Linked DNA regions of Homo sapiens. The protein of the gene in region 1 interacts with the protein of each later gene in a pairwise test. Each region holds a gene or a part of one and is shown on either strand. Other genes may lie near its edges. The genes, in order: INSYN2A and BACH2.

The links.
Region 2: the proteins of INSYN2A (region 1) and BACH2 interact in binary tests that used the Homo sapiens proteins (3 or more experiments, as listed by UniProt).

The regions. Positions count from the first base shown.
Region 1 is NC_000010.11:127,134,917-127,137,887, reverse strand, and holds the end of INSYN2A (inhibitory synaptic factor 2A), read left to right. Parts: coding exon 1-51; 3' UTR 52-2,458; downstream 2,459-2,971. UniProt on the Homo sapiens protein: Component of the protein machinery at the inhibitory synapses, probably acting as a scaffold. Inhibitory synapses dampen neuronal activity through postsynaptic hyperpolarization.
Region 2 is NC_000006.12:89,950,795-89,958,103, reverse strand, and holds part of BACH2 (transcription regulator protein BACH2), read left to right. Parts: intron 1-6,241; coding exon 6,242-7,309. UniProt on the Homo sapiens protein: Transcriptional regulator that acts as a repressor or activator. Binds to Maf recognition elements (MARE). Plays an important role in coordinating transcription activation and repression by MAFK.

The DNA.
Region 1 (2,971 bases):
TCCAAAACTGAATCTAAAAAGCACGGAAGATGGAAACTCTGGTTCCTTTAACACTCACGGTGTCTGGAGTCTCGAGGCCGTCTTTAGAACCCACTGGAGTTTAAGTCAATACTTTTCCAAAATGAATAGGATCGAGGGAACTGTGGTGCCCATTCAGGCACCTCCCACTTCTCGCCCTGCGTACCAAAAAGGCCTTTGTACCAATAGATAATTAACAGAAGCAAGGTATTCTGTGTCACTCCTTGCCAGCTGTTCTTTGCAGTTCACTGATGTGGGATGTAAAATCTGAAATGAAACTTACGTAGTCAAAGATGATAAGTAAAAATTTTCCCCCACCCCCGATCTGCAAGTAATACATTATCAACCTGCGAGATGGCAGGCTGTCACCCTGTACACAGCTATAACTCATAATTATTTTCAAGCCTTGATTTTTTTTTTAAATAATGAGAAGAAAAAGCAAGCCTTATGTTTGCGAAGGACTTCATTTTTATGTTTCATTTTGCAAATAAGCAGGGGGCGAGTGCAATTTTCAGCACATCAAATTCCGGAGAAAGCACAATTTTTTCAAGTGGTCGGAGACCATGAATAATCTCTAAAATGTGACTATATGTATATTTGCCTTCATGTGCTATAGCGCTAAGCCAAGTGACCACATCTCAGTGTCACAACGACACCTCAAATTTAGCATCCTCTTCATCTCCAGACTTACGACATGTTTACTGCTCATTTTCCAAATGGCCAGCAGCCAGGAGTCCCCCAAAGTCAGGATATGCCTTTAATCACTGCAAGTAGACAGGGTCAGAGCTATTGGACACTAAGTTTTCTTAGATCTCATTTTTAATCTTTTGGTACCCAAAGGCCAAATAATACATTCTGGCAAGAATCTGAGAACATACATAGAGATACACGATGGATAATCCACCCACCAATAAATCACAGGCATTCTGTGCCATGGCAGACAGTGTTTTTGTGGATCGATCCTCCGAGACACTGTTAGCCATGGTAAGTGCAGCCAGACGTTATGTACAATTCGTTATGCTTTGTATTAATGGTGGAAGCCCTGACCATCTCAAAGAGAAACAGTGCGTTTAGTTTAGCTGCTACCAAGGGACAATGTCGCCTACATTTAACCTATTAGTAAGTTGTACTAAACAACATACTTAGGGGAAAGCTGTGAATCAAATGTTTTTAGGTATTTTTTAAATCAACAGTAACACTTAGAGTTCTCTCTTGATTACACATTGCAATGTAAATCTTAGTTCCTTTATTTTTTCACTCATTTCTTTGCACCTTTGCAAGTATCTTTTTATAGAAATCAAATCCCCTAGTCTATTAATGACTTTGTCTATCAATTTTTTGATTTTCACAATAGGAAGTAGGGATCTTACTTTGCCTTTTTTTTTTTTTTTGTACAACTTAAATTTTGAATAGTTTGTGAGCATACAGGAAAACCTAGTCTTGAAGTTTCTGTCCAGCAGTTTCACATCTAGTGGAGTGCTGACATGCACACCTCATTGACTAGATGCCAAACACACAGTGGCTAACCTTGGTAAAAGGATCTCACCTGCTTTTGTCAGATTGGAGCTGCTTCTTGCCATGTATTTTCCTCCTGACTCAACAGCAAATCTGTTTTAGTTCTAAGTGTTTTGATTCTACAAGGACCTAGTGATCAGTAACCAGATCGGGCCTTGAAAAAAAAATGAAGAGTATGTCGTGTAAACATTCTTCGGGGGCCAAACAACACTGCAGTTGTATGCTTTAATTTAAAACACACATGTGCACACACACATCCTCTGCGGAAACACTATATGAAGTTCGAATCCCTGAATATCAATAAAAGGAACTGAGAAATATTTTGGTGCAAGAACAATGAGGAAGTTGATCCTGTAACATGAAGGAAGTGTAACTGTTTCACGTAGACTAAATATTTAAAAATGGGTTTCATGTTTTTTATACTGTTTTTAACTAAAGTTATAAAAATGTTTCCAACAAGTTCTCTCTCCTTATGTTTTAAGAATCCCAACTATCTCAGTAAATTGAAATAAGGGTATTAGCAGTTTTCTAATTAGTAACACAAATCTGTCTAAACAAGAGGACATCCTAGTACACAAAATAATGTCACTGTTTCACACCAGTCTAGACCAAAAAAAAATAAAATTAAAATGTTCAGAGTCAAAAAGGAACTTCTGAAGATAAATTAATTCATCCCTAAAAATTAAAGTGTGTTCAAAATAGAAAAACTATTGTCAAAATCATTTCATAGTTTAATTGCAACACGTCACTAACAGATGGTGATTCTTCTCTTGGAAAGATTCAAGTAAAAACGCTGATACAAAAGCAAGGTAAAACGCACAGGGTTCCCTTATGTAGATGTACACATGGCATTGCATATAGAGATTAAATTATTATACTTGTCGTTAAGTTCTTTATTAATTTTTAAATAAAAAAATCAAAGATGTTTTATGTGGCTATTAAACTTATTTCATGGCCTCAAAAATTGGGGAACATAAAAGTAATCTAAGAAAATAATAATAAAGGAAGAATGTTTGGGCCGATAGGCATTTCATCCGGTCTGCAGAAGACAAGAGCATCGTAAGGCCTGGGCCTGACCCACCAGCCAGAGCTGGCCTGGCTTGGGGAGGGAAGGGACTGACGCTTGCCCACCTATGCACCCTGGCATGGAGTTTCACCACCGGAACACATGGTGGCATTTTAGGATGCACACAGGCTCATAGCAGGAGGTATATGAGGTTTAATTCTTAACCTCAGAAGAAATGGCTAAATACATTGAGTGTTGCCACAGTACACTGTGGCATGTAAATCTTGCCTCCATGGCCCAGGGGAGGTAGCTTCTCTCTAGATCTTCCATTGAGCACATCCCCAGCCTCAAGGGATCAGCCGCCTCCTTCCTTTCTTCTTCCCCTCCCTAGTGGGAGATAGGCTGAGCGCCTACCTCTCCTGCTGACACTAG
Region 2 (7,309 bases), on another chromosome or scaffold:
TCTCAGGAGTAAAACTTACAAATAGGGGAAGGATTTTTACATTATGGCTGCAGATCCAAGTTCAAACCTGCACAGGAGAGAAAAGACACTCCGTTTATGTTTTAAGACATATTCACTAAGACAAATAATGATTTTCTTTAGCTAAAAGAACCACCATATGAAATGATATATGTATAAATCAATTTCAATGTTGATTTAGTTTTTATATTATTACCTTAGGAATAGAACACAAAATAAGCTCTATCTAAAATTCATAATAAAATTGCCCAGGCACAATGGCTAACACTTGTAATCCCAATACTTTGGGAGGTCAAAATAGACGGATTGCTTGAGTCCAGGAGTTTGAGACCACCTGGGCAACATAGTGAAACCCCGTCTCTACTAAAAATACAAAAATTAGCTGGGCATAGTGGTATATGCCGATAGTCCCAGCTATTCAAGAGGCTGAGTTGGGAGAATCACCTGAGCCCCAAAGGTTGAGGCTGCAGTAAGTGGCAAGATCATGCCACTGCACTCCAGCCTGGACAACCAGTATGAGACCCTGTCAGTAAATAAATAAATAAAATTAATACGAGGCCAGATGTGGTGGCTTACACCTGTAATTCTAGTACTTTGGGAGGCTGAGGCAGGAGGATCCCTTGAGCCCAGGAGTTCAAGACAAGCCTGGGCAACATAGGGAGACCCTGTCTGTAAAAATAGATAAAATAAAAATTAATACTAAAATAACCAGAAGCTTTGTTGAAATAGTAAGGTGAATTAATTTGACAAATACTTTCTAAATGTCTAGCATGCTGCTTTGGAAGAAGAATGTGATAATGTGGATATGAATTATAGAAAATTAAGATGAGGAGTGATGCCTGATCACTAAGTCAGTTTTCATCCTGCAGAGTGGGTTGCAGTGCAGTAAGAGAGTGGGAAGGGAGAGTTAATTGTCACCAGCATTGCTTTCATCATTTGACAAGTGCCTTGCTGTGCAAATACAACCCAGAGGGGTTGTCAGTGGTCTAGCGTTTTAAAAAGCCCTTGGGCAGGGGTTCATTACCTTTATCTTCCTGGTTCCTGCAGTGTGTAAGAGATTCAGCTTCATCAGGAAAGTGTACATGGTGTTGCTGAAGATGTAAGTTTCCCTTTTTTGTGAAGTTGTGATTAAGGGACCTTGAGAAGCGTGCCAGCCCTCTCCCAGGGAGCAGTCACCTGTCCTCCGGATTCATCTGATCAGCCTTCTGCAGATGGGCTCAATGCTACAGCCATGTGTATATACTGCCAAAACCAACTGGAGACACCTTAGTCATGTAGCTTATATAGAGAATGATGTTCCAAGTCTCAAAAATCCTCAAACCCTATTTTCAATAAATGCCTGAAGGCTGACTGCCTCATCCCTATCATAGTCCAGAGATGGAACTGTTGTAAGTATCCTCATAAACTCTGTCCTGCAGCAAAATGGATGTCTCATGAAACACTGAGCTCCCCAAAACACTGAGCTCCCCAAAACACTGAGCTCCCCAGCTTTGCAAACAGTGCCCAAACTTTCTCTACAAATTGAGTTTTCATCAGCCCATCTTCCTTTCAGCAGAGAGATGATATGTTAGAATCCAATGTAATGAAGGATTAAGGGTCATAGTTACAGTGGGTCAAATTTCAACACATTGTCAGCATGTTGACTTGCACCATCGGACACGGTACCCTGGCCTTATTTCTTTCAGGGTTGAACCAACTATGTGCCAACTGCTAGCTGAGGTCATCACCTCCTAGGAAGCAGTCTGTGGGAGGTTGGAGGGTTAACTTTCTGCCTTCTCCGAGGTCTCGCCCCCACATGGCACACTGTATTCTGGCCCCAATGTGTGATCCCATCTCATCTGTATCAGAATGAGTATTGCACAGTATGAGACCAGGTAGTTACATATTTAAGTGCAATGAAAAAATGTTCTTCGAAATGAGGCATTCAAAATATTTTCATTCAAAATGCAAGACTGTTATCCCAAGTTGTCCCTAACACCATATTTTGCATTTGTTTCTCATACCTTGAGGCCACTGCTGACCAGTGGATTTTAGTCTAGATGGGTCTGCTTAGAGCAGAGGGATGCAACTCCATTAACATCAGTGAGTTGGAACTATTCTTCTATTTATAGCCACTTCATTCCATTTTAACTTTATGATCATTACTTTTTAAAATACCATTTTATGAGTTGTTAGTTTTGCGTGTAATTCTCCACCTCCCACCCCCCTCTTATTTTTTCCCATTATTAGAGCCTTATTTGTTAAGAACAAAAAGTAAGTAACAATGCAGACTTGTGGTCACAGTTTCATGAACATACAGCTTTTCACTGGTACCTGAATATTTGCCTTCTGAGTATAATGAATGAATTTAAATGGTCCCTAAAAATGGGTAGACAGTGCCACCTTCTCAAGATGGAGGCTAAGCCAGTATTTAGAAAGCCTCTGCCTGTTGTAACACTTGCTGGCAGGTGTGATGGGCACTTGCTTTCTGTTTTGTGTATCTGGAGCGATTACCACTGCCGAAAGTAGACCAGAGATGGGTTCCTGGGAGGGACCCTTGTGACAGTTCCGAAAGTAGCCATCGTATCAAAGCAACCCTTGACCTAGAGCAGACACTCAAGGCGTGCTGATAAAAGTGTTCAAGGGGCCCCCTTGCTAGTCCCCTCAGCCTCAGTAGTCTCCTATCCTGAACTTGTCTGGATTTCTCAGTTGACAACTACTCATATAATCTTGCAATGGCTTTTCCATTGTTGACTTGCTTACATTGTTACTTAGTTAACTTTTCATCATTTGTACCTCTTCTACAAAGCTAAATCTTAGATCTCTTGAGCACAGGCCTGAGTCCTACACATATCCTTCCCTCACACCACTAGCACAGAAGAAGAAACAGACTGGACTTGGTTTGGAATCCTAGCTCTCCACTGACTAGCACTGACCATGGATAAACTCCTTCACCTCCCTGCTTCATAGTTTCCTTATCTACAGAATAAGGGCAGTCATGCCTGCCTTGCAGGGTGTTACAAGAGCACAGTGCTGGGCACTAGGAGATACTTGGTAAATGGTCATTCTGGCTCACCAAACAAAGCCTCACACACAGAAGCTGAGCAAAATCTTGCAGACTTAAATATGACAAAGCAGGACTGAAACCAGAATGGGAGAAGAGCTAGTTATGAGCTCTTGAACTTTCATGGTGAGGACACCATTTCCTCTGCCCTTGGGCTTAAGTGACAGTTTACAAACCAGATTTTTTATCTATGACTCTTTCATGACCATATGACGATCATTTCAAGCTCAGGAAGTTTCCTAAGCCTCAGTGATCTAAGGAGTGCCATTGATTTGTGATGTGGAGACTTTGCTCATTCACCTCCTTGGTCCAATTCATACATTTAAGCATCAGCTCGTCCCTGAGCGGAGATGCTTTCTCCAGCTCCTTGCAGCCATGTGGCAGAGGGTGACTCCCAGTACTGCTTCCTGATCTACAGATCCCCATGGATGTCCCTGGCTTCTTTAGAAATTTTCTTTACAAGAGGCCACAGTGGAAGATAGTGGTAAGACTTACTTAGACCTACAGCATCAAAAAAAAAAAAAATGGTGATAAGGATGGGAGTATGAGAAAAACTGTGTGAACACTCTGGGGACTGTTGTGGGGTGGGGGGAGGGGGGAGGGATAGCATTAGGAGATATACCTAATGCTAAATGACTAGTTAATGGGTGCAGCACACCAGCATGACACATGTGTACATATGTAACCTGCACATTATGCACATGTACCCTAAAACTTAAAGCATAATAATAATAAAAAAAAAAAGAAAAACTGTGTGAACAGTATAAATAGCATTGAAATTAGTTTCCTACATTTCCCATATAGTGAGCACCTTTGCCAAAACTCAAGAAGTGTCTTATCCACCCTTTTGGCAACTGGCACATTACAGAGGAGCATAGGATCATTACGAGGGCAGGGGTCAACTCTGCATTGATTTCACCATTTCTTTCTTTGTGGTGGAGCCATGTGGCAGTAAAGGAATAGGTCATGTGACATTCTTGTCATCTTCTTCAGTTACCTATAAATACACATTTCCTTGCTTTTTTACTTTCTTTTAAAGATTCTTGGAAGAAAAGGACATAAAACAGATGTATTGTCAGTACTACATTTGCTGAACCTATTACCATGTCAGCTTAGCAGGATACAAAAGTGTCGGTCAGACCTCCTTTTTAATACTGGTACTGTGACACGGGGCAAACAAAGACCCTTGCCTGCCTGCCTTTGATCAGTTGATCGGTTCAGTTAGTTGGTTTACATGATGCCTTGCTCCAAAAGTAACTTGAGACAACACTCTCTAAACATACTGTGTTGTCACCTTGCATACACAGTAGTAGTATGTTAGGACACAGTTTGACTCATGACATATTTGGTAACATACAAGCTTTTAACAAGTATTTACCATGTGAGAGACCCCAGGTTAGATTAGATGCAAGGTTACAAAGACAGACAAAACCATTCCTGATCTGAAGGAGCTTGCTGTCTTATGGTAGAAACAGGCACAATTAGGTATAATAAAAGGGAGATGGCACTGATTGCCCATATAGAATTTATAATGTGGGTCTAGCAGTCATGGCTTTTTGTTTTGTTTTTTTAACCAAATATCTCTGGACTCATCATCTGACAGAAAAATTTAATGTGGAATCTTACTTGAGTACTTTAAAAAGATTAACAATTAAAATCCCGTTCAGTTACATGTCTAAGAAATTTCCGTTACTGGAAAGAATGCAATGATATGAAATCAGTGCTGCCCTGGAGAATCCAGCACGTCTCCTCATCTGGCTATGAGAGCTGAGAGGACAATGTCATTCATTCTCTCTAAGAGGACTGGAGAGCACTCCCAAAGGAGTGAATGTCCAGGTTGAATCTTGAACATCAATTACAGGTCCTTGCAAGAATTTTGGCTCTGTATGCTGCGGTGAGTTTAATACACACAGAAGTCAGCTACAAAGTTTACCAGTTCACCTTGCTGTGCACTCACTCCCCCCGCTAAAATTTTGTATCACTGCTACCATAGCCTCTAGCAAGGACCCCATGATTGCTGCTTTCATTTGATTTGTACAGGATTTGTAGACATGCGTCACCTTCCTGTGTGGTCAGCAGTGCTTGCAAGAACCTAGAGGATGTGTGGTTTTATGTGCAGGGTAAGGAAGCTTACCCTGATGAACACCAGCAAGTTTAATCCATTTCCATCTGAAAAAACAATTGGCCTTAGGCAACATATTCTTAATTGTCTAAGTCATTGTGTGTGAGCAGGCATGCGTGTGGGCACACACGTGTTTGTGTGCATATGCAAGCTGTGCATAAATAGCACACTTTCAATCTTTGTAAAATATAACAGATAAGCAGCAAATGACAGTAGGCTTAGCCCCTGAAGATTTACCAGGAAAAAAAGACAGCTGCATGGCAAAGCTGCTGCTAATAATTAGGGAAGGAATAGCCCATACCCTGTGCCACTCAGCAGCTTCAACCATTTAAATGAGAGCCGGTTTGTTTAACTCTGCAACCCCCATTCATTATGGGCCAGGGGTTGATTTCATCTTGAGCACACCACTTTTGATTGTTGTCATCTCTGGTGAGATAATGAGATCATCATCATCATAAGATCAGGTAGACATGATGACCGAAAGTCTCAAGTAGAAACTGTGATGGATGAGCAAAACAGGAGTTGTTTTAATGTCTCTTTTAACATTGTAAGTGAGGAAAACCTATTTTTACAACTCCCTGGAGTTAGTTTTTTGCAGGGTCACATTGCCATTTTTGTGGTTGACAAGAAAACGTTAAGGCTCTCTTGGGCTCCAGCAAGCTGCAAGAAGTGTCACAACACTCCCCCCTCGTGTAGAATGGCTCTCAACAGGACTGATTGGGAGGGAAATTAATAGGCTCCCCATTGTCACCGTGCATTTTTGCCAGGATATTTCATTAGTGTAAACACTGAACCCGTTGTCATCTTGTTTAGCCACTTGACCCTGGTGATTTTCAATTCTGCCTGTGCTGTGATGGAGTACAACAGTGGCATGCACGAGACAGGCACTAATTATTGGAAGCAGAATCATTGCTGACCCAGTACTACAAGATTAACTGCCCCTTTGCAGTCTTTATTCTGGGACATTAGCACTGTCTGGTTATCTTGCTTCAGTTGAGGGATTCGGGACAATAGCAGTGCTGATGGTAATGTTGGCGATTTCCCTGTTTGTTTTGCAGGTCACAGCCAGGGGCTTTGGGCCGCTGTTACAGTTTGCCTACACTGCCAAGCTGTTACTCAGCAGAGAAAACATCCGCGAGGTCATCCGCTGTGCTGAGTTCCTGCGCATGCACAACCTGGAGGACTCCTGCTTCAGCTTCCTGCAGACCCAGCTCCTGAACAGTGAGGATGGCCTGTTTGTGTGCCGGAAGGATGCTGCGTGCCAGCGCCCACACGAGGACTGCGAGAACTCTGCAGGAGAGGAGGAGGATGAAGAGGAGGAGACGATGGATTCAGAGACGGCCAAGATGGCTTGCCCCAGGGACCAGATGCTTCCAGAGCCCATCAGCTTTGAGGCCGCCGCCATCCCCGTAGCAGAGAAGGAAGAAGCCCTGCTGCCCGAGCCTGACGTGCCCACAGACACCAAGGAGAGCTCAGAAAAGGACGCGTTAACGCAGTACCCCAGATACAAGAAATACCAGCTTGCATGTACCAAGAATGTCTATAATGCATCATCACACAGTACCTCAGGTTTTGCAAGCACATTCCGGGAAGATAACTCTAGCAACAGCCTCAAGCCGGGGCTTGCCAGGGGGCAGATTAAAAGTGAGCCGCCCAGTGAAGAGAATGAGGAAGAGAGCATCACGCTCTGCCTGTCTGGAGATGAGCCTGACGCCAAGGACAGAGCGGGGGATGTCGAGATGGACCGGAAACAGCCCAGCCCTGCCCCTACCCCCACGGCCCCAGCTGGGGCCGCCTGCCTGGAGAGATCCAGGAGCGTGGCCTCGCCCTCCTGCTTAAGGTCTCTGTTCAGCATAACGAAAAGTGTGGAGCTGTCTGGCCTGCCCAGTACATCTCAGCAGCACTTTGCCAGGAGTCCAGCCTGCCCTTTTGACAAGGGGATCACTCAGGGTGACCTTAAAACTGACTACACCCCTTTCACAGGGAATTATGGACAGCCCCACGTGGGCCAGAAGGAGGTGTCCAACTTCACCATGGGGTCGCCCCTCAGGGGGCCTGGGTTGGAGGCTCTCTGTAAACAGGAGGGAGAGCTGGACCGGAGGAGCGTGATCTTCTCCTCCAGCGCT